Linked DNA regions of Homo sapiens. The protein of the gene in region 1 interacts with the protein of each later gene in a pairwise test. Each region holds a gene or a part of one and is shown on either strand. Other genes may lie near its edges.

The links.
Region 2: the proteins of SLC2A5 (region 1) and USP40 interact in a two-hybrid assay, tested with the Homo sapiens proteins (one study listed by BioGRID).

What each region holds. Positions count from the first base shown.
Region 1 is NC_000001.11:9,066,367-9,082,979, reverse strand, and holds the start of SLC2A5 (solute carrier family 2, facilitated glucose transporter member 5), read left to right. Parts: upstream 1-13,344; 5' UTR 13,345-13,443; coding exon 13,444-13,476; intron 13,477-16,613. UniProt on the Homo sapiens protein: Functions as a fructose transporter that has only low activity with other monosaccharides. Can mediate the uptake of 2-deoxyglucose, but with low efficiency. Essential for fructose uptake in the small intestine.
Region 2 is NC_000002.12:233,516,475-233,533,150, forward strand, and holds part of USP40 (ubiquitin carboxyl-terminal hydrolase 40), read right to left. Parts: intron 13,039-16,676; coding exon 12,957-13,038; intron 11,105-12,956; coding exon 10,933-11,104; intron 9,089-10,932; coding exon 9,004-9,088; intron 8,089-9,003; coding exon 8,018-8,088; intron 7,016-8,017; coding exon 6,696-7,015; intron 4,641-6,695; coding exon 4,517-4,640; intron 3,198-4,516; coding exon 3,140-3,197; intron 1-3,139. UniProt on the Homo sapiens protein: May be catalytically inactive.

The DNA.
Region 1 (16,613 bases):
TCTTCACCCCAAAAGGAAAAGGTGCCTATTAGCTGTCACTGCTCATTCCCCCTGCCCCCAGCCCCTGGCAGCCACCAATCTGCATTTTTTTTTTTTTTTGTCCTGTTTGCAGTACCATACATGATCATCGAACTGCTGCTAGAATGCCCACAGCTGTTACTGCAAATTCAAAACCCAGGAAAGACTTCTGGGAATTTACTTTAGGTCAGGGTTGGGCTGCCTGGTGCAAGATTGCACCCACAACTGGGCAGGTTCAAAAACATAGGAGCCTTTCCCCAGACCATCAATCTGCATTCTCTATGGATTTATCTATTCTGTATCTTTCACATAAATGGAATTGTACAATATGCAACCTTTTTCTGTCTGGCTTCTTTCACTCAGCATGTTTTTGAAGCTCATGTAGCACGTATGAGTACTTCTGTTTTTTTTTTAGAGACAGGGTCTCCCTATGTTGCCAAGGCTAGACTTGAACTCTGGGACTCAAGCAATCCTCCGACCTCAGCCTCCTGGGGAGCTGGGACTACAGGCATGCACCCCTGTGCCTGGCTCATTTCTTCTTATAGCTGTATAGTATTCCATTGTGTATGTGCCACAATTTGCCTATCTGTTCATCCACTGATGGACATTTTGGCTGTTTCCCCCTTTTGGCTATGTAAATACTGCTGCTACGAACATATGTGTACATGTATTCGCTTGAGTACATGTTTTTCATTCTTTTTGGGTATATATCCAGGAGTAGAATTGCTAGGTCATATGGTAATTCTATGTTTAACTTTTTGAGGAACCACCAAACTGTTTTTTCCTCAGTAGCTGAACCATTTTACATTCCCATCGGCAAGGTACAAGTGTTCTAATTTCTCCACATTCTAAACAACATTCGTTTTATTTTATTTTTTTTGAGACAGAGTCTTGCTCTGTCTCCCAGGCTGGGGTGCAGTGGTGCAATCTCAGCTCACTGCAACCTCCACCTCCTGGGTTCAAGCAATTCTCGTGCCTTGGCCTCCCAAGTAGCTGGGATTACAGGTGTGCACCAACACACCTGACTAATTTTTGTATTTTTAGTAGAGGTGGGGTTTTGCCATGTTGTTCAGGCTGGTCTTGAACTCCTGGGCTAAAACGATCCACCCACCTCAGCTCCCCAAAGTGCTGGAATTATAGATGTGAGCCACCTCACCTGACCACCAACACTAGTTAATTTCCCTTTTTTTTTAAGTATGATAGCCATCCTAATGTGTGAAGTGATACCTCATTTTGTTTTTGATTTGCATTTCTCTAGTGAGTAATGATGCCAAGTATCTTTTCATGTGCTTCTTGGTCATTTGCATATCTTCTTTGGAGAAAATAATCTATTCAAGTGTTTTGCGCATTTTGAATTTGGTTGTTTGTCTTTTGTTGTTGAGTTGTAAGAGTTCTTTATATATTCTGGATACCAGACCCTTATAAGATATACGATTTGCAAAAATTTTTCTTCTAGTCTCTTGTCTTTTTACTTTTTTTTTTTTTTTTTTTTTAAGAGAAGGAGTCTACCTCCATTGCCCAGGCTGGACTTGAACTCCTGATCTCTCCTGCCTCAGCTTCCCAAGTCGCTGGGAATATAGGCACATGCCACTGTACCCAGCTCATCTTTTTACTTTCTTGATAATGTCTTTTGAGGCACAAAAGTGTGGGTTTTGTTTTGGTCGTGTTTTTTTTTTTTGGGGTTTTTTTTTTTTTTTTTTCTGAAACAAGGTCTCATGCTGTTTCCCGGCCTGGAGTGCAGTGGTATGATCACAGCTCACTCCAGCCCTGACCAGTCAGGCTCAAGTGATCCTCCCACCTCAGCCTCTTGAGTAGCTGGGAACAAGGGCATGTGCCACCACCCTCAGCTAATTTTTTTTGTTTGTTTATTTGTTTTTAGTATTTTTTGTAGAGATGATGTTTCACCACATTGTCCAGGCCAGTCTTAACTCCTGAGCTCGAGTGATTTGCCTACCTCAGCCTCTGAGGTGCTGAGTTTGCAGGCGTGAGCAACCTCACCCACCACTTTTTCATTTTGATGAGGTTATTGGCAACCTGAAATAATTGAAAGGATCAGAATCCAGTTTAAAGGAGTTTATTCAAGGCCAGGCGGAGTGACTCACACCTATCGCCCCAGGCGAGAGGGATTAAAGGTCCCATAAGCACATTCCTTTAAGACTCAAAATAATTCCAGTTTCCAACAGCTTTGATTTTGAATTATTTGTTTTCACATTATATATAAGCTGGCTCCTGCACATCACTGGATATTATTTATGGCCTGCCTGGTCTCATTTTCTGTGGTCAAAGAGAGTGGTCTCATTAGGAAAGAACTTGAATAGACATTTCTCCAAAGATGTACAGACGGCCAACACGAATGTGAAAAGATGCTCAACGTCACTCATCATTAGGGAAATGCAAATCAAAACCACAATGAGAGCTCACCTCACACCTGTTAGGATGGCTACTACCAAAAACAACGATAACAGCAACCACAGCCCAGAAAATAACAAGTGCTGGTGAGGATGTGGAGAAATTGAAACTCTTATATACTGTTGGTGAGAACGTAAAATGGCGTAGCTACTGTGGAAAACAGAACGGTAATTCCTAAAAAAAATTAAAAATAGAATTATCATGTGATCCAGTGATCCCACTTCTGGGTATATATCCAAAATAATTGAAAACGGGGGCTCAGCGAGATACTTGTACACCCATGCGCATAGCTGCATTTCTCACAATTGCCAAAGGTATTAATAGAAGCAACCCAAGTAACCTGACAGATAAATGGGTAAACCAGATGTGGTGTGTGCACAGTGGAGTATGATCCAGCCTCAGAGAGCAAGGCAATCTTGTTCCATGTTACAGCATGAAGGACTCATGAAGACATGCTCTAAGTCTTCGGAAATCAGTTACAAAAAAGCAAATACTGCATGATCCTACTTACATGAGGTATTGTGAGTGCCCAAATTCGTAGAAGCAGAAAAGTAGAATGGTGGTTGCCAGGGACTTTGGGGAGGGAAAATGGGGAGTAGTTGTTTAATGGGGACGGAGTTTCAGTTTTGCAAGATGAAAAGGTTCTGGAGATCTGTTTCATAACAATGTGAATATACTTACCACAACTCAACTGGTACATTTATTTAAAAATGTACAGTTAAAATGATAAGTTTTATGTTATGATGTTTTTAAAAAGAGGGATATCGGCTGGGCGTGGTGGCTCACGCCTGTAATCCCAGCACTTTGGGAGGCCAAGGTGGGCAGATCACCTGAGGTCGGGAGTTTGAGATCAGCCTGGCCAACATGGTGAAACCCCGTCTCTACTAAAAATTCAAAAAATTAGCTAAGCATGGTGGCTCACGTCTGTAATCCCAGCTATTTGGGAGGCTGAGGCAGGAGAATCACTTGAGCCTAGGAGGCAAATGTTGCAGGGAGCCAAGATCACGCCACTGTACTCCAGCCTGGGTGACAGAATGAGACTCTGTCTCAACAAAATAAAGAAATAAATCAAAAATAAAAAGAGGAGTGTCTATCCAGGGTAATGTGTAACCGACAGAAGCCCCTTGGGTCCTGAAGAGCCTCTGCTGCTCCGGCTTTCACGTCTTCTGCCTGTGCTTCTCCAGGAGCACGCCCTTCCTGTGCACGTGCACTCTCTGATAGGCGAGGTCAAATTCTGTTCTTGGTGAGAAAACACATAGGCACCTTGTCATGTCTCTGAAGTTTACACCCCAGGCATATCAGAGCGTGATCAACAATCTCTCTGCCTCGGGGACATCTAGTAGGAGCTTGGAAGGGAGCTCAAGTGAGGACAGAATACAGAACTGGCTCCTGAAGGAAGATAAACTTGGAAGGCGCACGTTTTCTGGACCCTCCCTGCAGACTTGGGTTCCGGCGGCCAGGTGGCATGCCCAAGGTGGGGTGTGGCTTTTCACAGAAGAGGAAGAGGGAGACACCGCGCGTGGGCACTGGGGTTGGGAGGTCCTGTGTCAACCGACTGGATGCACTCCTCTCCCTTCCCCAGACGAGATACACTGCCTGTGCCAAAAGCAAAGCAAGGGCACTGTGGGGTGGTCAGGTCCACTCTGAATCTGTTAATGATTCCTTCCTTATCTAAATCTGGAATGTGGGAAAAGAAAAACAGCTGAGCAGTGTGAGCCCTGTGAGGTTCGCAAAATTTATTAGGCCCAGAGAGACGTGAGTGGGAACTTGAGTCACTTCCCCACCCATGTCCAGGGCAGCTATTTGACGACACTTTGTTCCTGATAGCTGCCTCACCCATTTTCTTCAGGGTTTTGGAATTCATGGTACAAAGAACAATGTAGTGTGGATCTACAGTTTACATGGTTTTGATGTAAATTCTTGGTAAAGAACTGTCTCTTCTTTAAATGAAATGTTTTTCAATAGTTTTTGGGGATACAAGTGGTTCTTGGTTACATGGATAAATTCGTTAGTGGTAATTTCTGGGATTTGGGTGCACCCATCACCCAAGCGCTGTACACTGTACCCAATACAAAGTCTTCTCTCCCTTTCCCGCCTCCTGTCAGAGGCATTGGAACCAGAGCGACTCCATCTTGAATAGGGACCGAGTAAAGTGAGGCTGAGACCTACTGGGCTGCATTCCCAGGAGGTTTAGGCATTCTTAGTCACAGGATGAAATAAGAAGTCAGCACAAGGTCACAAAAACCTTGCTGATGAAAGGATGTGGTAAAGAAGCCACAAAAACCCACCGAAACCAAGATGGTGATGGAAGTGACCTCTGGTTGTCCTCACTGTCATTATATGCTAATTATAATACATTAGCATGCTAAGAGACATTCCCACCAGTGCCATGACAATTTACAAATGCCATGGCAACCTCAGGAAGTTACCCTATATGGCCTAAAAGCGGGAGGAGCCCTCAGCTCCGGGGAACTGTCCACCCCTTTCCCAGAAAACTAGTGGATAATCCTCCCCTTGTTTAGCAAAGAACAAGAACTAATTATAAATATAATCAGTTGAGCAGCCCAGGCCACTGCTCTGCCTGTGGAGTAGCCTTTTTTTTATTTCTTTACTTTCTTAATAAACTTGCTTTCACCTTACTCTATGGACTCACCCTGAATTCTTTCTCACACAAAGTCCAAGAACCTTCTCTTGGGGTCTGGATCAGGACCAACACTCCCATTGCCCCTCCCTCCCTCCTGTCCTTCCTTCCTTCCTTCCTTCTTCCCCTTCTTTCCCTCCCTCCCTCCCTCTCTCCCTCCCTCCCTCTCTCCCTGTTTCACCCTTGTTGCCCAGGCTGGAGTGCAATGGAATGATCTCGGCTCACTGCAACCAGGTTCAAATGATTCTCCCGCCTCAGCCTCCCGAGTAGCTGGAATTACAGGTGCCTGCCACCAAGCCCAGCTAATTTTTTTCTTTTTTTTTTTGTATTTTTAGTGGAGATGGGGTTTCACTATGTTGGCCAGGCTGGTCTTGAACTCCTGACCTCAGGCGATCCACCTGCCTCAGCCTCCCAAAGTGCTGGGATTACAGGCGTGAGCCACTGCGTCCAGACTTTTCTGGGGGTTTTTTTTTTGTTTTTTTGTGTTCTTTTTTTTTTGCTTTTTTTTTTTTTGAGACAGGTTTTGACTCTGTTGCCCAGGCAGGAGTGCAGTGGCGCTATCTCAGTTCACTGCAACCTCCACCTCCCAGGCTCAAGCAATCCTTCCACTCTAGCCTCCCAAGTGGCTGGGACTACAGGCATGCAGCACCATGCCTGGCTAATTTTTGTATTTTTGTAGAGACGGTATCTTACCATTTTGGCCAGACTAGTCTTGAACTCCTGAGCTCAAGCGATCTGCCTGCCTCAGCCTCCCAAAGTGCTGGGATTATAGGCATGGGCCACCATGTCCAGCCTTCCTTTTTTCTTTTAAAAACCCACTTGTAAGGCTTGGCATGGTGGCTCATGCCTATAATCCCAGCACTTTGGGAGGCTGAGGCGAGCGGATCACGAGGTCAGGAGTTCGAGACCAGCCTGGCCAACATGGTGAAACCCTATCTCTACTAAAAATACAAAATTAGCCATGCGTGGTGGCAGGCGCCTGTAATCCCAGCTACTAGGGAGGCTGAGGCAGAAGAATCGCTTGAACCCGGGAGACGGAGGTTGCAGTGAGCCGAGATCACGCCACTGCATTCCAGTCTGGGCAACAAGAGTGAGACTGCATCTCAAAAAAAAAAACAAAAAAAACACCACACTTGTAACTATTGCTGATAGGAACATAAATTCAGGGCAACTTGAATCTATGCTCCTGGGTTGCAGTCCTCAAACTTGGCCCAAATAAACTCTCTACTTGTATGGATTTCACCTCAGTTTTTTCCTTTAGATTAATAAATGGGTGTGGCCAAGAGCCATTTCCTCTCCCCATCAATCAAGCAAGCCAAATATAGACACCACCTTGATAGCAACCCCGTTTTGTGCATCAAAGGCACATATAGGCATTTCTGCTATCATGTGATATACCTGTTCCTAAAGAACATGACATTCTGCCAAGTGGCACATCAAAATAACAGGGCTTAAGGGGAGAAATGACTGGCAAGGACCACTTGAATCCTATGCGGTTTTACAATCTGAACACAAACAAGTATAAATGCAGTCTTGATAAGCACAGCAGCTAGGGCAGATCTCCATCGCCTGGGGGAACTTCTGCTTTCTCTTCTCAGATTAGGGTCTTTGGGCCTTTCACTCCTAGTAGAGCTGTTTCATCAAAATTGAAAATCCGGCCAGGTGCAGTGGCTCACGCCTGTAATCCCAGCACTTTGGGAGGCCGAGGCGGTCAGATCATTTGAGGTCAGGAGTTCTAGAACAGCCTGGCCAACATGGCGAAACCCCGCCTCTACTAAAAATACAAAAATTAGCCAGGCGTAGTGGCGTGCGTCTGTAATTCCAGTTACTCGGGAGGCTGAGGCAAGAGAATCGCTTGAATCTGGGAGGTGGAGGTTGCAGTGAGCTGAGATTGTGCCACTGCACCCCAGCCTGGGCAACACTGTGAGACTCCGTCTCAAAAAAAAAAAAATGCCGGGCGCGGTGGCTCACGCCTGTAATCCCAGCACTTTGGGAGGCCGAGGTGGGTGGATCACCTCAGGTCAGGAGTTCGAGACCAGCTTGACCAACATGGTGAAACCCCGTTTCTACTAAAAATACAAAAATTAGCTGGGCATGGTGGCAGGTGCCTGTAATCCCAACTACTTGGGAGGTTGAGGCAGGAGAATCACTTGAACTTGGGAGGCCGAGGTTACAGTGAGTTGAGATCATGCCATTGCACTCCAGCCTGGGGGACAAGAGTGAGACTTCGTCTCAAAAAAAAAAAATTGAAAATCCAATGCAGGCTATAATCAATTAAAACAAACAAATTACATATGAAAATATCTTCAACTGTCCTGCTAACTCCACCATTTAGTTTAAGATTATTGAAAGGGTCACAGGGGAGTGACAACTGTCTGGGCCAGTGGCACGGGAGTAAAAGAATTTACCAAGACAGTTGTAGGTAGAGAAAGATAGATTTATTAGAGAAAGTAGGAAAATATGTTGCAAGGAGGCAACGGGCGGTATCAGCAGAAGAGGAGCGGACTGCAAGGAAACAGGCTTGCTGGAGATTTTATAGGATGGCTCTTGGGATGTTGGATTACGCCACGGCTGCAGGAGCTAACCTGCCTTCTTCTGTCAACCGGGATGTTTGATAAATTGAGGTGTTTGATGTGAAACGGGAAGTCTGTGAGTTATGTGTGTTATTTGCTCAGGAGGGCTACACTTCCTGGGACATAAACACAGACAGACCTATAACTCATCTGCTTCCTCTTTGTTTATCTGTTGTGGACCATGAAGAGAGGCAGATTTATAGCTTATTTGCTTTCTCTTTTGCTTTCCCCTGGTGCTGCCAACCTGACTCCTTTTCCCTAATTAGGACTCCACAGAAAGCTTGGAAAGCACTTCTTTTTTTTTTTGTTTTGTTTTTTGAGATGGGATCTCACTCTGTTGCTCAAGCCGAGTTCTGTGGCTCAGTCACATCTCACTGCAGCCTGAAGTTCCTGGCTCAAGCAATTCTTCTGCCTCAGCCTCTCAAGTAGCTGGGACTATAGGTGCACACCACCACACCCAGATAATTTTTGATTATTTGTAGAGATAAGGTCTCACTGTGTTGCCCAGGCTGGTCTCGAACTCCTGGGCTCAAGCGATCCTCCTGCCTCAGCCTCCCAAAATGCTGGGATTACAGGAGAAAGCGCTTCTTGAAATCACAAAACCAGCCCAGAGCCCTGCAGAATTTTCAGCGTTTTCTCTTTAAGGTCTTCATATGTTGTGTAAAGGAAAATAAAAAACTCAGGACCCCAATTCACTCTGCCAAAAAGGAAAAACAAAATTAAGCTGAAAGCTGAGTCATGCAAGGAGCTGTCTTTCCTTATGTTCCTAAGCAGACAGCGACAGATAAAAGGTTAAGTATCCCCACAAGTAGCTACTCTGTGTTCACCTCACTTTATGTAAAGTGCTGATTTACTGAGCAAGAGACAGACATGTAATTGCTGATTCCTCTACTTGTACCTTTTCTCTTGTAACATGTAGGTTACCATACTCTCCCTCTTTCCCCTCCAGCCAGCTTTTCTTTAAATATCGACGCCCTCAAAATCATCTTTGGAGAAAGGCACAGACCACAGACTATTTCTGAGATTCTGCTTTTTTCTTCTGGGCATGTCCTTAACCTTGGCAAAATAGACTTCTAAATTGATTGAGACCTGTCTCAGATACTTTTTGGTTTACAGTTGCTAAGCCTTGCTCTTTCATTGAGAGAATGCTTGCCCCCCTCCGCTCCACCACCACCTCAAACTATTATATGAACATGCTGCTAAGAACACAAACACAATTTCTGCATTCTACTGACGTATTTTTTTTTTTTTAATTTTTGGAGATGGAGTTTTGCGCTGTCACCCAGGCTGAAGTGCAGTGGTTTGATCTCAGCCCACTGCAACCTCCACTACCTGGGTTCAAGCGATTCTCCCGCCTTAGCCTCCTGAGTAGGTGGGGTTACGGGCTCCCGCCACCAAGCCTGGCTAATTCTTGTATTTTTAATAGAGACCGGGTTTCACCATGTTGGCCAGTCTGGTCTTGAATTCCTGTAATCCGCCTGCCTTGGCCTCCCAAAGTGCTGGGATTACAGGCGTGAGCCACCGCGCCCGGCCAGCATTCTCTTGTTTACCATCTGCAAATGAACTAACTAACTCACAGTACAGAAGCATGTACTGAGTGAGGCAGAAGAGACTCCACCATTTGCACCACCAGGGGCTTTGGTAGAATATCTTCCTGTTTTCTGTCCTAACAGATTTTCAGGCATCCATTTAATAGTTCTACCAGTGAGAAACGGTTTCAGCTGCAAGTGACAGAAAACAAAATGAAGTATTTTTCTTCCCTACTAAGTCAAGTTGGTGGTGGGGAGCTGGGATGGTGCTCCACAGGGTAAGGGGCCCCAGCTCCTCCTAGCTTGGTGCTCTGTCCTGTGGGGCTTCAATCTCAAGGCCCAAGCTGGTGGCATCTACATTCCAGGAAGCAGGATGGAGAAATAGGCAAAGCTAAGAGAGCAAAGTTTCTGGAAGCTGCCTGCCATATGGCATCTTGCATACACTGCATTAAGCGGAACTTTATGTCTGTACTGACTGCAAGAGCAATGGGGAAATGTCTTTATTTTGGGCAGCCGCAGGTCTTGTTCCCAATTCTATTACTACAGAAGAGGCACTGACCAAATGGATTTATGGATGGGGAGGAGAAGCCATTAGCAGCCTGTACAAAAGAGGCCCGTGGCAAAACTTTAAAATTCTAGAACATTCCTAGCAGAGGTGAGGCCAGTAGTGACTGAAGTCCTGGTATCATTGTCTGGTCACAGAACAGCCCGGAGATGTGCCAGCTTGCTTTGTGGTATGGTGTTAACCCAATATTTTGCCCTGGTTAAATTTTTCTTATATAAAACATTTGCTTTTCATTCTGATTCAGAAAAGTAACTTTTATTTCTGTTTTACTTTTTTTTTTTGGAGACAAGAGTCTCGCTCTGTCACCCAGGCTGAAGTGTAGTAGTGCGATCTCAGCTCACTGCAACTTCCGCCTCTTGGGTTCAAGCGATTCTCCTACTTCAGCCTCCCAAGTAGTTGGAATTACAGGCGCACACCACCACGACCGGCTAATTTTTTTTTTTTTTTTGGCATTTTTAGTAGAAACGGGGTTTCACCATGTTGGCCAGGCTGGTCTCGAACTTCTGACCTCAAGTGATCCACTTGCCCCAGCCTCCCAAAGTGCTGGGTTTACAGGCTACCACGCCTGGCCTAGTTGTGTTTTATTATAACAGTAACAGAAACGCTCCTATTTCCTCTCCCCCATCCTATCACCAAGTGATTGTCAATTTTCCATCCTAAATATCCCTCAAGTGTATCTACTTCTGTCTTCTCCATCCCCATGCTGGTCCAAGTCACATTGTTCTTTCACCTGGGCTACGGCAAAGACCTTCCACTGCTCCTTCTCCCCACTTCCAAATCCAGCGGTCTCTTGTCCCCTCATCAGTTCACCTCTGGACATCCAGATGGAACTTTAATTTTTAATTTTTTTTATTTCTAGGGACAGGGTCTTGCTCTGTCACCTAGGCTGGAGTGCAGTGGCATGATCGAATTCCTGGGCTCAAGCGATCCTCTTGCCTCAGGTTTGCCAGGACCACTCCCCTCCCCCCAGTCCCACCTCACCGCTGCCATCCCCCTCCTCCATCTTTGAGCCACTAGGCTTCTCACAGTCTCCCACCCCGCCCTGCTCGCGGAGCCTGCAGGCCTCGGCCTCATGGCGGCCTGAGGCAGGGGCCTGGAGGCTGGTCCGCCCGCCACGAAGGTTGGGGGGTCCCTGGCCAGAAGCAGGACCCGGGCGAGGCTGAGGGGGACTCTGGCAGAAGCTGAAGGGGACCCGGGTGAGGCTGAGGGGGACTCGGGCAAAGGCGGAGGGGAACCCGGGCTGAGGCTGGGGGGGATCTGGGCTGAGGCAGAGGGGGACCGAGGCTGAGGGGGACCCGGGCTGAGGCAGAGGCCGAGGGGGACCCGGGCTGAGGCAGAGGCCGAGGGGGATCCGGGCTGAGGCAGAGGGGTCCTGGGCAGGGACAGGACCCACCCGGAGCCCGCAGGCCCGCCAGGCAGAGGGACTGGCTGAGCGGCCCGCAGCCTGGCGTCATGACGGCCTCCCGCCACGCCCCCGTCCCCGCGCTCGGCTCCCTCCAGGGCGGAAGCACGGGTCGAGCGTTGGTGACGCCATGGCTGTGCTTGCGACGCCCTGTCACTGGCAGGAACCGGGTACTGCGGCCCGCAGCTCCCGGGATGATCCCCTCTGGGCCTGAGGGCCTGGCTCACTGTCCCCGCTTCCCCGGGCTGGGCCGTCAAGGCGGGGACTGGGAGTGTCCGCGTCCCCCCCAGCGACCCCCGGTTTTAGTTACCCCCTCGCCCAAAGGCAGGGAGAAGTGGAAGATCTGGGCCTAGATAGAAGCAGGTGTCATGCACTTGACATGACTGATGACTACAAACTTTGGACGATTATTTTTGGGGGGAGGATGGGGGACGGAGATGAGTCTCGCTCTGTCGCCCAGGCTGGAGTGCAGTGGTGTGATCTAGGTGCGCTGCAACCTCCGCCTCCCGGGTTCCAGCTATTCTCCTGCCTCAGCCTCCCAAGTAGCTGGGATTACAGGCGTCTGCCACCATGCCTGGCTAATTTTTGTATTTTCGGTAAAGACAGGGTTTCACCATGTTGGTCAGACTGGTCTCGAACTCCTGACCTCAGGTGATCCACCCACCTTGGCTTCCCCAGGTGCTGGGATTACAGGCGTGAGCCACCGCGCCCGGCCGGATTCTTCTTTGTGTTGGATTGCACACCTGTACCCGTCTCCTCACTCCCCCATCGTTGATTTCCTCTCCCCACCCTACCCCTGCAATTAAAGTGCATTTTCTTTGGAAACTTTTTCTAGATCTTTGAAATAATTGGAAACCTCTGGTCTTGCTATGCGTTAGTCACAAGTCAGTGTGCTAGGACAGTGATACGCAGAAGAAAAAGACAGGCAGTAGCTGGTGAAAGGGAATGCTGAGTTCTCCCTTGTGAATAGGGACCCCCCCGACCCCCCAACACACACACACACACAGACGGCCACGCTGCTAGGCTTCTCACAGTCTCCCACCCTGAGCAACCCTGGGGATTTGCTGCTAATGCAAGGAACAGTGCCTAACACAGGCTCCCAGTCTCTGCTTGTTTAAAGATGCATGAGATTCAGAATCAATCACTAAAGTAACTGGATTTACGCCACAGCAAATAGAACTGGGAGTATGTTCTGTAAAGATGAAAACCTGTGGGACTTGTGAGACTTTGGATTTTGGCCACTTGCGCTGGTGTGCCCTGTGGCAGCTGAATGAGTGCCAAACATGGGGGGCTGACAGTGGCCTGGCCTTGAGATGGCCGGACCCGGACCAGCAGGTGTGACTCATTTTCCCTGCCCTGCCTGGAAAGGGGTTCGAGGTATTTACCACCTTCCCAGTAGTGATGAATACACAGAAAGTAACATCCCTAGGTCATTCTGAGCTCCTTAAAATGGAAAATAAGAGGCCGGACACGATGGCTCACGCCTGTAATCCCAGCACTTTGGGAGGCCAAGGAGGGTGGATCACTTGAGGTCAGGAGTTCGAGACCAGCCTGGCCAACATGGCAAAACCCCGTGTCTACTAAAAATATAAAAATTAGCCGAGCGTGGTAGTGCACGCCTGTAATCCCAGCTACTCAGGAGGTGGAAGCAGGAGAATCGCTTGAACTCGGGAGGCGGAGGTTGTAGTGAGCTGAGATCATGCCACTGCACTCCAGCCTGGGACAAGAGCGAAACTCCGTCTCAAAAAAAAAAAAAAAAAAAAAAAAAAACAGAAAATGAGAAACTTTCCCCAAACAGTATTACACGGTGACTTGGGCAAAACTGACTCTCCACCAAGAGACACTTGACTGTAGTTTTCCTGGCAGGGAGAGCATCTTTGAGGTCTCTAGTGGCCCAATCTGTTGCCCTCAGATTACCTGGTGTCATGTAGGGTGGAGGACAGCTGTTGTTTGCCATGCGTTCCTGACAGAAATAACCCTTCCAGTCATTCACCATGAGCCTGACTGGTAGAGACTTTAGCAATGGGGAAATACCGTAGACTGTTCCATCAGGACAATGCTGGGCCTGCAGTCCCCAGGGGGCACCCACTTACTTAGCCAAACCCCAGACGTTTCATTTAAAAGCAGAAGTGAAAGGAAGACCAGGTTCCTGAAAGGGTTATTCTGACTTAATCTGGCTATAAAAATGCTATTGGCTGTTATTTGGCATGGCCAAAGTGCACCCAGAATGTCTTCTCTCTCCATTCAGTGCACGCGTTACTTTGGCTAAAAGGAGGTGAGCGGCACTCTGCCCTTCCAGAGCAAGCATGGAGCAACAGGATCAGAGCATGAAGGAAGGGGTGAGTGTGTTGCTCAGGGAAAGGGGCCAAGAGCAGGCTTGGCTGCCAGGGCCTGTGCAGCCTTCCTGGAGAGTCGCTGGGGGGCTCCTGGTGTTGCAGAGGGAACTCTGTGTTGGGAGGGATTATGGTGGGGAGAGGGGGAAAGTCTTGTCCAGCAGGTGGTCTTTTATAGGGAGGAGAGAGGTTTAGAGACAAGTGCTCTGTGGAAATCATTCTACTGGAACAGCCTTTAACAGCAGGATCTGTAACTGAATGGAAGAGACCCAAAGGATTCATTTGTCCCAACTTGAACCAAACATGTTAGCTGCAAAATCCTTCTATGGTTGGTGAGATGTTTCGCTCTGCTTTCGTTTTGCTTTTGGCTTCAGGGCAGTTAATTTTTTCAGCAAGTAACATAGCTGAGCTGCATGAAAGCAAGATAAACTCAGAAAAGGCGTTGCTTGATTTGAATTTAGTTCAGATCTGTCACGTAGGTTTCCTGCCTTTTAGATCCTGAGGCTCCCTTGTTTTAGAGAGGAAAGATTTTCATGGACTCCTGCAACGTAATTGCAGTTTACTTTCTAGATTCCCTTGATTGAGGAAAATGCATAATGTCAGAAAAGTAACACTGACTTATTAACACTTTATAAGAATTTGCATTTATTCATCACAATAGCATCTGCTTATATTTGGAGTGGAGGAAGGATAGTGCACATTTTTGCAAAACAGCATTTGTTCAGGCATGGATGTGAGACCCTCACCATAGGCAGACTGGAAACATGCTCTGTAGCACATAGATTAAGAGTGGGTCTTGGGAGGCTGAGGTGGGTGGATCACCTGAGGTCAGCAGTTCGAGACCAGCCTGGCCAACATGGTGAAACCCCATCTCTACTAAAAATACAAAAATTAGCCAGGCGTGGTGGCAGGTGCCTGTAATCCCAGCTACTCAGGAGGCTGAGGCAGGAGAATCACTTGAACCTGGGAAACAGAGGCTGCAATGAGCTGAGATCACGCCATTGCACTCCAGCCTGGTCAACAAGAGCGAAACTTCATCTCAAAAAAAAAAAAAAAAAAAGAGTGGGCCTGGGAAGTAGAAGCCCCCAGGATTCATTCCTGCTCCATCCTATTCTAGCTGTGGGACTTGGGTAAGTTCTTTAACTCTTCAGTGCCTCAGTTTTCTCATTTGTAAAATGGGAGTAATAACCATACCGCCTCATAGGGTGCTGGAGCAATTAAATGAGATAATGCATGTAAAGTACCTGGCACAGAGTGAGTTCCCCGTAAATGTTACTACTTTTCTTTCTCTCTCTCTCGCTTTTTTTTTTTTTTTTTTTTGACACAGAGTCTTGCTCTGTCACCCAGGCTGAAGTACAGTGGTGCGATCAAGGTTCACTGCAACCTCCACCTTCTGGGCTCAAGCGATCCTCCCACCTCAGCCTCCCAAGTAGCTGGGATTACAGGCATGCACCACCACACCCGGCTAATTTTTGTATTTTTAGTAGAGATGGGGTTTCACCATGTTGGCCAGGCTGGTCTAGAACTCCTGACCTCAGGTGATCCGCCCGCCTCGGCCTCCCAAAGTGCTGGGGTTACAGGTGTGAGCCACCGCGCCCGGCCATCGTAAATGTTACTACTTTTCAATCATTCTTTAGGCTGGTTTCTCCACCTCCGCGTGATTTCCATTTGGCACTGGCTAACGCTTCGTTGTAGGGGCTGTCTTGTGTGTTATAAGATGTTTAGCCGCGTCCCTGGCTCTACCTTCTAGACGCAGTAGCTCCCTCCCCCAGGAGTGACAACCGATGTCCCCGAGAGGGCAGAATCCACTCCCAGCCCTCAACTGAGAGGCACTGCTTTGGAGTCTACTCAGCCCCTTCGCTTGGGTCATCTTGTTTGTCTTACAACTAAGAAAGTGTTAGACAAATCAAGTGTCATCACCTCCATTTTATAGAAAAGAAACGGAGGTGATGAGGACTTAGGTGTTTGGGGTCCAGGGAGGTCCTCCGCTGTCCAGAGAAAGGCACAACTGCCACGTTCCCCACGTCCACCAAGTCCAGCTGCAGAAAGGAATGGAAACACCCCCACGTGGCAGGCCCTGAAACTGAGTAACACATTGCGAAAGGAAATGATTCAGATGGCCACATGCGAGAGGCATGGGCTGACCCAGCTGCCTGCTGCCTCAGCCCTCCAGGGAAGGAAGCCTCCTCTGGGCCAGAGGGATGAAGGTGGGGATGGGCTTCCCGCTCCTGAGAGCAGCCTGCCCCTTGGGGAGAAAGCTGGGGCGTGCTGGGCTTCCCAAAACACTCTGAAGGAAGCGATCCCAATGGTCTGTAAGAATCCGGGAAATCATTAAGTGCAGCCGAGAGGGGAGGTAGGAGCCAAGGAGAAATGCGGGGGCAGGCGAAGGCTACAGAGGCTGCGCGGTCCGGGGAGGAGGGCGTCTGGCAGTATGGAGCCAGCTGCCTGCCCCTCAGTGGTTGTGTGGCAGTGGCCTCACTGGCCTTTTCTCTTCTTTTTCTTTCTTTTTCCTTTTTTTTTTTTTTTAATTTTGAGACAGGGTCTTACTCTGTTGGCCAGGCCAGAGTGCAATGGTGGGATCATAGCTCACCGCGGCCTTGAAGTCCGGGGCTCCAGCAATCCTCCCACCTCAGCCTCCCGAGTAGCTGGGACTACAGGCATGTAGCACCACCCTTGGCTAATTTTTAAATATTTTGAAGAGACGGGGTCTCACTATACCCAGGCTGGTCTTGGGCTACTGGGCTCAAGTGTGCCTTCTGCCTCAGCCTCCCAAAGTGCTTGGATTGTAGGCCTGAGCCACTGCACTCAGCCCTGCTTTTCTCCTATGTAGAGGGCAAACACTGACATCTATCAGATGTGCACCAAGGACTTTCTGCCAGGAAGAAAAGACTGTTGGTCTGAAAGAAAAAAAAATAAAATGGATTAGGAAAAGAAAAAGGTACAACAAGGTATTTTACAACTACATAAGAATTGAGGGCCAGGTGCAGTGGCTCTGGCCTATAATCCCATCAGTTTGGGAGGCCGAGGCAAGCGGATTGCTTGAGCCCACAAGTTTGGGACCAGCCTGGGCAACATGGCGAAACTTGGTCTCTACAAAGTGTACAAAAATTAGCTGGGCATGGGGACCGTGCCTATAGTCCCAG
Region 2 (16,676 bases), on another chromosome or scaffold:
ATCACGAGGTCAGCAGATCAAGACCATCCTGGCTAACACGGTGAAACCCTGTCTCCACTAAAAATTAGCCGGGCCTGGTGGCGGGCACCTGTAGTCCCAGCTACTCGAGAGGCTGAGGCAGGAGAATGGCGTGAACCCGGGAAGCAAAGGTTGCAGTGGGCCAAGATCGCACCACTGCACTCTAGCCTGGGTGACAGAGCGAGACTCCATCTCAAAAAAAAAAAAAAAGAAAAATTAGCTGGACGTGGTGGCAGGTGCCTGTAACCCAGATATTCGGGAGGCTGAGGCAAGAGAATCGCTTGAACCCAGGAGACAGAGGTTGTAGTGAGCCAAGATTGCTGCCCTGTACTCCAGCCTTGGGGACAGAGCAAGACTCCGTCTCGAATTGAAAAAAAAAAAAAAAGAATATTGTGTTGTCTGATTTGTGAATGTTGTATATTGCTTTATTTATTCAGGTCTTCTTAAATATCTCACAGCAGTATTTTCTAGTTTTTAGTGTACAGGTCTTGCACATATTTTGTTCATTTATGTCTAAGTATCCCATAATATTTTATGCTATTATAAATGTTTTCTTAATTTTGATGTCGATTTTGTTGTTGTTGTTGCTGGTAGGTAAAAAGGCAATGAATTTCTGTATATGATTTTGAGTTCTTGCTAAATTTACATGCATTAAGATACTAATTCACATTCAGTAGAATGGCCATGTTGGTGTGGATATGGTGATTAGGGAACACTTCAACACTGCTGGTGGGAACATAAACTAGTACAGCCACTATGGAAAACAGTGTGGAGATTCCTTAAAGAACTAAAAGTAGAACTACCATTTGATCCAGCAATCCCACTACTGGGTATCTACCCAGAAGAAAAGAAGTCATTATACAAAAAAGATACTTGCACATGCATGGTTTTTTGTTTTTTTTTTTTTTTTGAGACGGAGTCTCGCTCTGTCACCCAGGCTGGAGAGCAGTGGCGCGATCTCGGCTCACTACAAGCTCTGCCTCCCGGGTTCACGCCATTCTCCAGCCTCAGCCTCCCCAGTAGCTGGAACTACAGGCGCACACCACCACGCCTGGCTAATTTTTGTTGTATTTTTCAGTAGAGACAGGGTTTCACCATGTTAGCCAGGATGGTCTTGATCTCCTGACCTTGTGGTCTCCCCGCCTCGGCCTCCCAAAGTGCTGGGATTACAGGCGTGAGCCACTGTGCCCGGCCTGCACATGCATGTTTATAGCAGCACAGTTTGCAATTGCAAAATCATGGAACCAACCCAAATGCCCATCAATCAATGAGTGGATAAAGAAACTGTGGTGTGTGTGTGTGTGTGTGTGTGTGTGTGTGTGTGTGTGTGTGTATGATGGAATACCACTCAGCCATAAAAAGGAATGAATTAATGGCATTTGCCGTGACCTAGATGAGATTGGAAACTATTATTATAAGTGAAGTAACTCAGGAATGGAAAACCAAACACCGTATGTTCTCACTGATACGTGGGAGCTAAGCTATGAGGACACAAAGGCACAAGAATGATATAGTGGACTTTGGGGACTTGGGGGGAAGGGTGGGAGGGGGATGAGGGATAAAAGACTACAAATAGGGTGTAGTGTATACTGCTCGTGTGATAGGTGCACCAAAATCTCACAAAGCACCACTAAAGAATTTACTCATGTAACCAAACACCACCTGTACCCCAATAACCTATGGAAAAAATAACAATAAAAAATGTGCTCAAAATATGTTTTTTTTTTTAAAAGTCAAAACCAAACCAGTAACAGATTCTAAAAAAAAAAAAAAAAAAAAAAAAAAAAAAGATGGCTGGGCTCAGTGTCTCATGCCTGTAATCCCAGCACTTTGGGAGGCCGAGGTGGGCAGATTACCTGAGGTCAGGAGTTTGAGACCAGCCTGGCCAACATGGTGAAACCCTGTCTCTACTAAAAACACAAAAATTAGCTGGGCGTGGTGGCACACGCCTGTAATCCCAGCTACTTGGGAGGCTGAGGCAGAAAAATTGCTTGAGCCTGGGAGACGGAGGTTGCAGTGAGCGGAGATCGTGTCACTGCACTCCAGCCTGGCTGACAGAGTGAGACTCTGTCTCAAAAAAAAAAAAAAAAAAAAGATAATCACAATTAATCACAGATTGACAAGGACATGTAGAAACTGCAACCCTGACACACTGCTAGTGGGAGTATAAATGGTTCAGTCACTTTGGATAATAGTGCGAGAGTTTCTTATAAAGTTAAACATAAATTTGCAAATGACCCAGCAATTCCAATCCGGTACATGTACCCAAGAGAAATGAAAACATATCTCCTCACCAAGACTTATGTGTAAAAGTTCATAGTGGCATTATTCATAAAAGCACAAAAGTAGAGACAATCCAAATGTCTATCAATTCATGTTTGTCCAGGATAAACAAAATGTGATACTATCCATATAATGGAATACTAGACTAGTCAGCAATGCAAAGGAACAAGCTATTGATACGTACTAAATCATGGACTAACCTCAAAAATGATATGCTATGTGAAAGAAGCCAGACACAAAAGACTATATGTTTTATGATTCCAATTACATTAAACATTAAGAAAATAAAGTCTATAGAGACAGAAAGCAGATTAGTGGTTGCCAGGGGCTTGGAATACAGATGGGTACAGGGATATTTTTGGAGTAATGGAAGTATTCTAAAACTGGATTGTGGTGATGGTTATAGAACTCTACACATTTACTGATGATTACTGAATTAAACACTTAAACTGAGTGAATTTTATGGTATGTAGATTATATCTTAATAAGGCTGTCACAGAAAGCCTAATGGTAAGTGAATAGTGAGTTTGCAGAATATACATTCAGTATAGTACAACATGAATACATGGACTAGATACACACCCACATCAGATATACTCATTGTATCTGGGGAAGGAGAGAAAGAATAGGTCTGAGGAGGAGAACACAGGGGACTTTAACTTCATTTATAATGTTTCAAACAAAAACAAACATATGACAAAATGTTAATATTTGTCCATTTTGGGTGGTAGGTATGTGAGTTCTCCCTAAACTGTTTTTTGTATTCTCCTATATTTTCTTCAATTCAAGACCAAAATTAAGCTAAACTAAGAACCGAAAAGAAAATGTAAATGATTACCTAGTTCCTTCATTAATTTTAATTCCTTTATGGCTTTAATTCGAATATCAAACACCATCTAAAACAGAGAAATAAAATAATGACTAAGTTGTAAAAAATGGGAGGAGATGAAAATGAGGATTGTCACTGTGTGCATAAACAAATTATTTGAGATATTAATTACCTGACATTTAGTAGTTTTTGCCCACTGGAAATTTTTCCATCCCTGAAATCCTTTTATAAGATCAAAAGCAAAAACTTAGGACTTCATAGTTAAGTTTTTACCAAATTGATGTTAATTGGAACAGAAAGGACACCTACAGAAAACTACAGAAACTGTAGAAAACTACAGAAACTAAAGAAACTAGCTGAAAGGCAATAAGCTGACAAACCAGTAACTTTTCTCATGAAAGCAAACAAAATAAACTGCAGGCAATCACATTTCTCTATGTCAGGAATGATGAATGTGGGGCCAGTAAGCATAAATAAAAATGTATACTATCAGCCCGAGTGCACTATTTAAAATTTCTGTTTAAATGACTTTATTTTAGATTCTTTCCCTTTTTCAGTTTAACCTAATTTCCTCTAGGATACAAAATCTTGTAAATTTAGGAGTAAAACCGATGTCAGACAATCTGTCCTCCCACAGCACCCCACATTGTGAAAAGAAGAAACAGAGTGAGTCATAAAGGACTTCACCAAAGTCTCTCACTTAGGGTCAAGGTACTAGATCTTCTGAACTTTAGTGTATTCATCATACAGTGTAAATATTAACACACTTTAAGAAATTATAATATTTATATAAAAGAAAACAACATTCTAGTAAGTTTCAACTTGTTATAGAAAAAAAACCCATAATGAATTGAGACTACATAAATATAAAAAGGTATTTCCTGAGATGGTGTTTAACGAAACTAGTCTTCAAATGGAGAACTGAAAGAGTTCCTTTTAAGAACACCTGGCTTTACAGAAAAACAGAGTATAATGTAAAACAATTTAAGATAAATTTAAAAAACAGAAGTCCACAACACAAAACCAAAACATATGTATACTTGGCTTAAAAAAAATACAGAAAAGACCCTTGAAAACAGCATTTTCAAGGAAGCCAAAGAATTTCATTTTGTGGGAGCCAGAGAATTCCATGAACTAACTAAATGAGTAACTCCCACATTCTAATTCTAGGCTTTGGAGGAAATTTTAAAAGGCACGTATTTTCTTGAAATATGCTAAGGGCTAACATAGGTAAACAAGCAATAATCAAATGTTAAATAAAAAGCTGACTTCCTAAGAGCTGAAGTCTATTGAGACAACTGTTCTGAAAGATTAAGGTATTGTTTTCTAAATAAAATTCTGTTAACTGAAAATCTATCAGCCAACCTTTAATTATATTCTACTCACTGTGTTAACAGTTGCTGATATTTTAACTTGCTTCTCTTCAGATTCTAACTGGCATAAATTTTTAACGTGGAGCCAGTCAATCTCATTCATACTAGTGACCCATTTCTCTTCCTTGGTCAACAAGCTGTAGGTAAAAAGAAAAGATCAGAAATTAATACCTTTCCTTAGGCATCACTTCCAAAACTCTGCATGTGTCACTTAATGTGACTAATTAGAGGTGACCAAGTTCTACTGAGTCGTCTCTATGATAAGTGGGCTACCTTTGCAGGGTAATGTTAGGCAGTAGTCTATAGAGTCTATATTCATGACTCCAAATATTCTTTGATTTACCTACATAATTTGTTGCCACATTTTTCACAGAGAACTTCTGTAAGTAAACAGTTGCTGGCTTCTGCCTGCACCCTGCAAATCACTAGGGGAGCTTTAAAAGAGCACCTATGCCAGGAGCCTACCCCACTGGATCTAGATTTCATTTAACAACAGGGCAGCCATGTGCAGTCTGTAGACTGACACTGCACAAAAGGGCCACATCTAAGGAGTGTCACACATGGCATATATATTGTATACTGCATTTCTACATAGAGTTTTGTTTTATAATTGCAGCCGGCAGTAGAGTATCTTGTTCTAACATTTTCCCACAGATAGTAGTAAAGGGTCCTGAAGAGGTGCCTTCTTTCTAATTCACACAGAAGCATTAATGGGCTTGCCGAAGTCCTCTTTGGGAATGTACATTAGAGCTCTGAAACATCATTCTACTCTTTATTGCAGTTATTCCATTCTGAGCTCCTACCTTAAGCTAGCAATCCCAAATAAAACAAAGTATGAAGCACAAGATGCTCCATGAAGACTACTTTAAAATAGTGAAAAACTGTATGATAATTATGACAATGACCGTAATATATTAACTAAAACATTTAGCACTTACTGTGTGTACTTTGTAAGCACTCAACTCTTTCAATCCTCTCAAGTCTATGAAGTTGGCACTAGTTATTATCCCTATTTGACAGACAAGAAGACTGAGCAGAGAAAGACGAAATACCTTGCCCAAGGTCCCACTACAGCCTACTGACTTGCCTAGGAGCACAGTTAGGCAAACTATAATGTCACATAGATTACTATGTAGCCATTCAAGGCAGTTTATAAAGAGTCTACAAATCTCAAGGTTGGGCAGGGGTAATGGAAAGCAGGATACAACTACTTATCTACAAAATAATCATTATTAGGTTTAAAAAGAAAGGCACCCAAATGCTAACAGTGATTAACACTGCATGCTGAGAAGACGGATACTGTTTTGGGTCCCTTCTGTCTTCACTTTTGTATTTCCCCAGTCCCAATAAATGCATACTGCCTTTTATAAAGGAAATACAGTTCTTATAAACAAGGTAGGGAATGTCTGCAAAACCCCTGTCCAAAAGAGTAATAGTGGTAAGTGTACTACGAAAGAAACGGTCCACAAGTGCTCTGCTTCTCTGCATCAAAGCCACTATAAATAATGATACAGACATCCTGCAATCTAAGTAAATCTGTAGCACTGAGAAAACAGGGAGCTTGAAGTCTTCAATATATGGAAATATTGCAGTTACAGTGTATGACACATTGACTACAGCAATGTACTGTCACAGACATAGATGACAAAGAGATGCAGCTTTAAATGTGACCACAGGATTCATGGGGGTAATTCGCCACGTAACTGCTCTATTTGGGCAACTGGGTTCTCAAGAGTCACAGAACGGATTATAAGGAAACAATGAGTTGTCTTATGGGTCTCCTGAAACAAAATATCCAGAAACAATTTAGCCATAATGTTAATACCTTCTTCAGGAAAATTTTCAGTTTTCTCTGTGAGAATTTCCTTCGGTTTTATAACTGGCACTAATCAGAATTCACTTGATAACTTTTGCATTACAGCCAACTAATTGATACTCTATACAGTCTAGAAAATCAGGGATACTTATATTATTTTCTCACCACATTTACCAAAAAGTCCCTTTACAAAAAATCATGTTTTTCTCTAAGTTACATAACCTAAAACATTCCTGTATGCAATATTTAGAACATAATGTCTAGAAATAAAGAAACATTCAACTCTTGTCACTAAAATAAAGCTTTAGAGTTCTGCTGGGTGGTACTGTAATTAAAATGACTTTTAGAAATCCTTTTTCTCTTGTTAGCGAGTTACCTGTTATCATCATGAGAATCCTGAATTAAAATTGAGCTTCCATTTCTGAGCCCTTGCTCCCTGAACGTCTTCCTCATGTCTTCCTTGGGGATGGCCGTCCAACCCTCCCCACCTGGACATCCAGCACTGTTGATGAAGATGACACCTGCTGGGATTGCTAAGGCTGTGAGGACAGTGCCCACTTCTGCATTAGCTGGAAAGACATGTGGAGATTCTATCACCTGACAACACTTTTCTCCATCACTGCTTGTGTCTAGATGAAGAACATTTAAAAGTAGAGGTTCGCAGTCAATACCAGTTTGAATGTGGACTCCACCAACCTGCAATCATACCAAGACAACCATTAGTACAGCTGATATTTGCCAACACCGTCAACATAACATGGTAAAAGATTACTCTTAGAGAACAACCCTCATTTTTTCCAAGTAAAATAAAATTTTCACAAATGTCTGTTAAGCATCAGAGGAACAACTTCAGATTTTTCTTTTGAAACTTTCTTATCTTTTATTTTTTTAGGAGAAATCTATGATAGACTGGAGATAGACATTTATGAGTTATCATGGGTGGTGATGAAGCCAGATTGGCCAAGGTCAGTTCACAGAGTGGCTGAAGTGCTCCTGGCCGCCTTCTAGAGATAGAAAATTCACTCTCTACCTCCAAACCACCCCCACTCCCCAACTCAGTATAGATTCTCACTCTTCTAAATTCCCACAGGCACTATGCACAGACCCCCTACTCCAGCACGTATGGTGCAGTTCTTCACACGACGAGGGCCTAAAAGGACACAGATCAACTGACTGGCCTTTGATCTAGCATCTGACGCACAACCTGGTATAACGGAGGCGCTCAAGAAATGTCTCCTTGGCGTACAACTAGCACTGATTGTCCCTAACATTTATCAAGCATTTCAGTAGTTTTCTAATATCTAATTGCCCTCACATAGGCTGAATAAAATTTCATTACAATGACTTTTTTTTTGAGATGGAGTCTTGCCCTGTCACCCAGGCTGGAGTGCAGTGGTGTAATCTCAGCTCACAGCAACCTCCACTTTCCGGGTTCAAGCGATTCGCCTGCCTCAGCCTCCCAAGTCACTGGGATTACAGGCATACGCTACCATGCCTAGCTAATTTTTGTATTTTTAATAGAGATGGGGCTTCACTATGATGGCCAGGCTGGTCTTGAATTCCTGACCTCAGGTGATCTGCCTGCCTCGCCCTCCCAAAGTGCTGGGATTACAGGCATGAGCCACCATGCCCGGCCATTACGATGACTTTTAAAACATCCAAAATTATCACGAATATTTCTTCAGTAATTTTTTTTACCTCCACCCCATTCCACACAAAGATGTCTTCCCCATCAGCAATTTCAGTTTCACACAGTGTCAGTTCATCCCCTAGAAAGAGATCACCAGTGAGACCATTCATCATGACCATCAGAAACAACTGAGCTAAAGAAAGAGCTGAGACAAATATTTGTTTGAAAAAGTATTTTCACTAAGGAAAATTTAAAAAGTAGTAATTATTTTTATTCTATTGACATTATTTCATTGTAATTTTTCTTTAAAACGTTGTGACAAAAGCTTGTGAGCATGGTGGCAGGACAAGAGAGATAATCCAAAGGTCAAGTGTACTTGAGGCACATGACATTGGAAACAGGAGTTAGGCTTAAGCATGGAATGGTCCCAACTCCACCGATATGTCCATAACACAAGCTGTATTGTGTGCTTCAAGTCTCTCAGCTTCAGTTTTCTCATTTATGAAATGGAGATAAAAGAATTTTATGAAAATCAAGTGAGATAATTAACATAAAACACCTATTACAGATTTTGGCCCAAATTAGATGTTACTGCCGCTACTGTTAATTCTCATTGTTTTCCTGCTATTTAAAGGAAGTAAATGCTTTCAAACTCTCAAAGTATTTCTTGTTTTACTACAAAATCTGAAGCTGAGAACTGGGCAGAAAATCAAGTCACATAAATATGATTCAGATGGTTTGAAACTATGTTGTTCAACAATATGTGTCAATATAAAAAATTCTAAAGCTTTTCAAGAAATTTTAGTAGAGGTAGCCTTAATTTCAGAAAAAATAAAATGTTTCCATGTTAGAAGAATTTCACACATTATATAAACTGGATACATTAAAACGTGGATATTTTATTTCTTTTGGAAAACTTACAGTGTGAAGATAATCTACTTAGTTAAGAAAGTAGTAGGTGGGGAAGGACTGACAAAGAGTAGAAAATCGCAGGTGAGCCGGACAAAAATGTAGATATATAGAGTGAGTTGCTATGTTTTCATATTTATCTTACCGCCAAGTGACTGGTAAATGTGAAGTCCTGCTGGTACAAGCTTTGCAACACTAAGAACCATGTCTCCTTCCCAAAATTCTAACAGCTGAAGAATATTAATGAAGGAAAAGAGAATGTTGAAAAGTGACATATACATATCACCTTTCCAGGTTACTGTGCCAACTCACATATGAAGATGACACAGAGAGCAAGCAAATGAATACTCTCACCCCCACCCAACACCGAAAACTTGAAAAGAAGGCATCACTTGTTAAATTAGTCAAAGCCAAAGACGGCTAATCTCCTCCATTCCTGAGTGAAGAATTCTGGCCTACACAAAGGGCACAACAACCATCTAAACAATTCTGCTTAATATATATGAAGAGCACTTTTCTCAGAAAGCAAGTTGATGAGCATGTCAGCCTAGGAATTTTTACTCAAAAGAGCAAGACTAATTTGCAGAATTAGCAATGTTGAGGGAAATGTAGCCCTGACTCTAGCACACACTCATCTTCTAGCTGCTTGAAAGGAATGTCTCCCATTGCAAATTTATAAAGGTGCATTACCAGTTTACTTAATAGATTACCATGGCTTTGCTCTTTAAGTTTCTAGATCTGAGAGTCTGAGCACTGTGGCAAGGTCACCAAAATAATATCACCATAAAAGTCATTCCTATCTAGTCATTCTCTACAATACCATAAGGTATTTTCTTAAAAAGAAACTTCTTATTTACAAGTGATTAGTTTGCTGTGAATTAAGTTTTCTAGCCTCTTGTCAGTGGCTTCCTTCTAAGAGAATAGTTAGTAGGCATATACACTTAAAACACCAAAACACACAGACTGGAGTGTACCTCACACTTACAAAGTGAATAAGATCCTTTCCATTTAAAATATCCCCCTAGACTAGGTTCAGATTCCCACATCTGCCTGTATCAACAGTGCCAGAATTGGCTCAGAAATAAATTTCTAATGAAAAAGTTCAGAAATATTAGACAACTTTAGAAATCCTGACACTGATCTAGTATTTAAAAAACTTCAAATCAACTAAGGTTAAAAGGGAAATTGCTTTGCTTTTCTTAGCAGAAGAAAATTGAAAGAAAGCTAATAGTTTTGGTAATAGGATTTTTCAGAAAATTCATTTAACTAATTTCTGGGAAAAAACACAAAAAAGCTAACATTTTCTATCTCCCTTTTCCTTGATCAGAAAGTAGTGTGGAGCAGGAGGGTGATTAGGAGAAAAAAACCCTAGATGAAGAGTAGGGAGAAGAGGGACAGAGTCCCAGCTCCATCAACTAGATTTAGGACCACAGGCAAGACATTGAGTCTCTTTAAATCACACTGCCTCAACTTCAAAATGGGGCTAATGTGTCTTCATGAGATTAAAGAACCAAATCACATGATTTATATGAAAGCAGTGTAAGTAAAATAAAGAACACTGCTGTTGCTATCATCATTAAAACATACCTAGAAAAATGACTTGGAGACTACAGCACTGTTTTTACTCTAGACTAGCAGATACTTTCCTTCACTTAAGAATATTATTAATAAATACTGTTCTATACTACAGGGTATAAAGTTAGTTGCGTTTATTTGTTCAGCAGTTCTCAGTTTTACACAACATGCTCATCTTTATCTTTTCACTCTCTTTGAAAGGCAATTTGCTTTCATTTATTTTCTAAAAAAGAGACAACTTTATACTCTTTCTTCCCCTCAAATAAAATGTACCAGGCCTGATTGTCTACCTGAAAAGCTGCTGGTAGGAGCTGTGGAGAAAAGCCTCTCTAAAAGACTTAGGAGAGAAGATTTGGGTCAACCCTCTATGAAGTGGCAGATGTCAGATCTTCCTAAGCAGCTTTGAAAAATAAAGTTGTATCCTAAACAGAATGAAATGGAGAGTCTAGCTGGAGATGGTGCTCGATGTCTGAATTAAGAGGAAGTAAGGCGATATTACCTGAAATATTGACTGCCGGAGATCTCCTAAAGTTTTTCTTTTATCAAAGGTCAAATCCCACACGCTTTCTGTTTGAGAGACTACTGGGTGCAGAGCCCCATTGAAGAAATGATACTGAGGGCCCAGGTGAAGATGCAATTCAAAAGTATTGTTTGCAGAATCACATTCTGCCCTTTAAAGAGGCACAAAAATACATAAATACTGTGTTTTTATAACAGACACTGTGTTTTATCTCAAACCAAAGATATCTGGCTTACAATAAAGTTCTCCATCCCACCAAAGTAACAATTTTTCTTCTATGTGCCACAATTAGTCACTTTAATTTTTCAGTCAATAGCAAAAATTCAGTTCTGTCACCATGAATTCCAAGAGAAAACTGTTTTAACATAGGCTGCAATGTTAACTCCATTTCTCTGAACAAAGGCTGACACTTGAAATCTTCTAATTCTGAGATTATATTATAGTTATGAACAAAATGCTAGAGACCTGCTTACATCATTATGTTAAGTAGCAGATTTACTTCCATGTCATCTATCATCCTTATTTCCACTAGATTTTGCACATTCTCCCATGATTTTTTTTTTTTTTTTGAGACAGAGTCTCACTCTGTCGCCAAGGCTGGAGTGCAGTGCTGCGATCTTGGCTCACTACAACCTCTACCTCCTAGGTTCAAGCGATTCTTCTGCCTCAGCCTCCTGAGTAGCTGGGATTACATGTGTGTGCCACCATGCCTGGCTAATTTTTGTATTTTTGGTAGAGATGGGGTTTCACCATGTTGACCAGGCTGGTCTTGAACTCCTGATCTCAGGTGATCCATTTGCCTCAGCCTCCTAAATTGCTGGGATTACAGACGTGAGCCACTGCGACCGGCCCCATGAAATATTTGAAGCCAGTAGCATGAACCTCCCGAGACCACATTATCCAGGCTAAAAGTCCTTGGCAGCAGCCTGGTGTTGGCTGCTCTTCTCTGAATCCACTTGGCTGACTCGAAGCCAGTGCGAAACACAGGTAGGGTCTGACCAATGTGGAGCTGGAATGAGGCTTATCACGCAACTCACGTACTTCAGGACACTTCAATGAACATGGTCAGAGAGCACAACCACACGAAAGACCTTAGTGCGGGTTGATGACAGCCCCTCAGGCTCTGCCTTTTATTTTTTTATTTTTATTTTTTTAAAATAACAACTGCTAGTCCAGACCACTTATGCAGGTTATTTTTTAGACTTAAGATATTTCGCTCTGTTAAGTTTTAATCTTTTTGGTATCTTGGTTTTTGTTGTTTCTTTGCTCGTGTCATTCACTGTACTTTTTTCCCCCAGCTCCAAGCCAATGATAAAAATGTCAAATACACCCTGTCACATAATCAGGCAGTTTGGTCCACAAGGAGATCACGGTAACATCCATTTTCCTAACCCAATACCCTATTGACCCTAACAGAGCACAAATAAAGAAGCAGTTCAGAGTCAAAGGTGAGGCCCCAAAAGAGAATGCTGAGATCATAAAGTTCTCACAAACCATCTCTTTAAGTAAGAATCCATCATAGGCTTTCCCCCAAGATCAGCATTGCATTCAATAGGTTATAGCATCCATATTTCCCTCCTTTTGAAAATCTGCCCACCACTGATCCTCTCTCACTACATGCCAGTTCGCTACAACTACTTACCTATGAGGGGTGATTTTCATGGCAGGCTCTCTTTGGACCCAAGGAAATAATCTGGCCAGGCCAGGATACAATTCATTCAGCCCAACTATGTGCTCACTGATTTCTCTACTCTTGTTAGGCTTCGATCCCTACTTAGCAATGGCTGTTTTATATGTCACCATTTAATTCACTCTCACACATAAGGGATAATTTCAGAGTTAAAGTTACCCTCACTATAAAAATTCAGCAGCCAAACAGACACTTGCATTAACAAGTTGACTATTTTTTTTCTTTTTAATTTTCATTACTGAATGCTTAAGGCCTAAATCAGATCTTTATTCTCCGGAATACTAGTCAAACTCTAAAAGCAATTTAAAATTACCTTTTGGTTTGCAGTTCAATGTTAGCTGCATCCATTTCATTCAGTAAATGACATGGAACCCCATATCTTGGATTAGCTCGAGCTGTGAACAAAATTTTTCATTAACTTGTGTTGGCTAAATGAAATCTGGTTGCTGGAAGAGGTAGCATGAAGACTAGGAAGGACTGTCCTAGGAGCTAGGAAAGCTGCTACTAATTAGCTGTGTGAATACGAATTTTCTCAGGATCTCAGTTTTCCCATCTGAAAAATGAAAAAGTTAGAACAAATGAAAAGTAAACATTTCTTTAAGACAAGCTAGAAGAATTCCATTTTTTCAACTCTTTTAAGTATACTTTTTAAAAAGAACACCCAGATTTTCATCTTTTTTTTTTCTTTTTCTTTTTCTTTTTTTTTTTGAGACGGAGTCTCACTTTGTCGCCCAGGCTGGAGTGCAGTGGCGCAATCTTAGCTCACTCTGCCTCCCAGGTTCAAGCAATTCTCGTGCCTCAGCCTCTGAGTAGCTGGGATTACAGGCTCCTGCCACCACGCCTGGCTAATTTTTGTATTTTTAGCAGAGACAGGGTTTCGCCATGTTGCCCAGGCTGGTTTTGAACTCCTGGCCTCAAGTGATCTGCCCGCCTCAGCCTCCCAAAGTGCTGAGATTAAAGGCATAAGCCACCACGCCTGGCCTCAGATTTTCATCTTGATTACAAATACAATAAATGACTACTGTAAAAATTCTGGAATTTTTTTAAGTGTAAAAGAAATAGATACTGCTCATAATTTCACTCCCAAGACACACACACACACACACACACACAGGCACACACACAAACACACACAATTTTAAAAACTGGGATAATATTCAACAAATCTATTTTCATTTCATACACTGTATTTTCCAAAGTCTTAAATAAATGATTACATAGTAGTCCATTCTATAAGGAGCATAATTAACCTAACCAATCTTTTTCTGTTAGACATTAAGGTGATTTCCAATTAATCACTATTTTAAAATAGTAGGAACAATAAACATCTTTGAGCATCAACATTCATATACAGCTCTGATTACTTTAAGACAAACTTGTGAAAGTAGAATTACTGGTTTAAACGGTATGACAGTTTCAAGGCTTTTAAATACACATACTCAAACTGATTGTATTCCATACCTACCAGCTCTGGAGGAAATGTCACCTGTTGAAACCCAAGAGTCACAGAAATAGTATCTGATTTGGTGGGGCATCTCACTAATGTTCATCTCATTGCCATTCTTCTTCTTCTTTTTGATTACAGGTTAAATTGAAAATTTTTTGAAACACAGGAATCTTCTTTTTGTAAATTGCTTATTTATATCATTTCCCCAATTTACTACTGAGCACAATGAAATATATGTAAGCGCACTCTACAGATAGGGGAAATTAATTTGTCATATATTTTACTGTTTTCCATTAGCTTGTCATTTGCCTTTTAATTCTGTTTTAAGGGTTATATCACTTTGCCCTAGTTTTTTCTTTCTTTGCTTTTATGCTTAGAAAGGTTTTCTTTACCTTAAGATCAAATATTTATATTTTACACATTTTACGATTCCTTTTTTACATAAATATTAAAGGAACTATAATTTCATTTAAGTGATTTGTATAACAAAGAAAAATGGCTTAGTTATTTCCCTAGCAAATAACCAACTTCCCAGTTGTATTTATTGAGTAATTCACTCCCTTCCTTCCCCAAAATATCTGAAGAGCTACCTTACCACGGATTAAAACACAAATATGCTTAGATCAACTCCTGGGTTTACTGCTCTTTTTCAATGATCTGTCTACCTTTTTGCATTACCACTACACTGTCTTCATTGCTATAACTTTATAAATATGTTTTTACTGATACAGCAAATTCTCCCTCAGTCTTCTCTTCTTCAGTTTTTATTACTTTATTTCTCCAGGTGAATTTTAGAATCATTTTATAAATTCTATCCCTTCATTCCCAAAAAAGTACACCTAGATTTTTTGTTGGATCTTTGTTCAATTCCTAAGCTAACAAGAAAACTGTCATTTACATATTCCAATTACGTACACACTAAAATTCAATTCTGTGAAAAAGACTAATACTCCATTTGAAGATATTCTTTTTCTGATAGTATATATTTCTATAACTGTGAATTCTGATACACAATATTTTTACCAGAACCATTTCCATATCTTTTTTTCCTCCCAGAAAAATACAAAGCCTTTTTCATTAACAGCATAGTTATGTAACTGTTTTAGATCTGGAAAGTTAATTTCCTTTGATTCACATGCAAATTAGTAACTGCTTTATTCTTATTCTTCATAAAAATGATGGTTATTCTCATTCTCTAAGAACAATATTCTCATCTCTAATAATAGATATGTCTCAATCTATAAAGCTTTTCTCACTGGGGTTTTTAACTTTTGAGCGGACTTTGAGAAGTGATCGAAAAATCTTACTAGGCCTCATGCCTGTAATCCCAGTGAGGCAGGAGAATAGGGTCTGGAGACAGGGAACCTAAGGCTGTTTCACACCGACTTCCTAGAACTAAATTGAAAGGAACACCCTAACTTTCCATTCCTAAGTAACACAAGGACCAGAGGCTACTTCCTTTGACCTTTTCTGCGCACACATAGGAAATTGGCTGACCCCAACGAATCAGACAGTGGGTGGAGTCTTCGTTTGCAACTCTGTAACCATTTCAGCCTCTGAATGGTTGCTGTTGGCAACAAATAAGACTGAGCAACAAATCAGACTGATTGCTGGTAGGGTCTTCGTTTGCATCTTTGCAACTTCACTCCAGCCTCTGAATGGGTGTTGCCTGCAGCCAATCAGACTGATTGCCAGCTATGTCTTCGTTTGCAAATAAGTGTAACGTTGTAACTTCAACCTAGCCTCTGATTGGTTGCTTTCTGCAACCAATCAGATGTTTGCACATGATAGTGACCTTTGTAACTTCACTTCAGCCTCTGGTTGGCTGCTTTCTGCAACCAATCAGACTGATGGCGGGCTCCCAATTCATTTACATGAGGTGAGCATGAAGTGGCCAATGGGAAACTTCTAGGGGATATTTGGACCGGAGAAGATTCTGTATCTGGGCCCTTGAGCTGCTGCTCAGGCTGCTTCCACACTGTGGAGTGTACTTTTGTTTTCCATACATCTCTGCTTTTGGTCTTTTGTTGCTTCATTCTTTGCTTTGCTGGGCGTTTTGTCTAATTCTTTGTTCGAAATGCCAAGAACCTGGACAACTTGCACTCATGACCCTCTACCGATGACACCAGCATTTTGGGAGGCTGAGGTGTGAGCATCATCTGAGGCCAGGAGTTCAAGACCAACCTGGGCAATACAGCGAGACCCTGTCTCTAAAAAAATGAAAAAATTAGCCAGGTGTGGCAGCATGTACTTGTAGGCCTAGCTACTAAGGGAAGAGAATCACTTGAGCCCAGGAATTAGAGGCTGCAGTGAACAATCATGCCACTGCACTCCAGCCTGGACGAGAGAGTGAGGCTGCATCTCTAAAAATAAATAAATGAATAAATAAACAAAAAGTCTTATTGAGAAACAGGAAAATAAAGGAGAAGATATGAAAAGATATAAATAAAGGATAAATAATAGAAATAAAAGATATAAATAAGCAGAAAATAAAGGAGAAGATATAAAAGAATCAGGAAAATAAAGGAGAAGATATAAAAATAAGACCAGGGCCACTTAAAATTCAAAGGCAACATATGGCTGAAT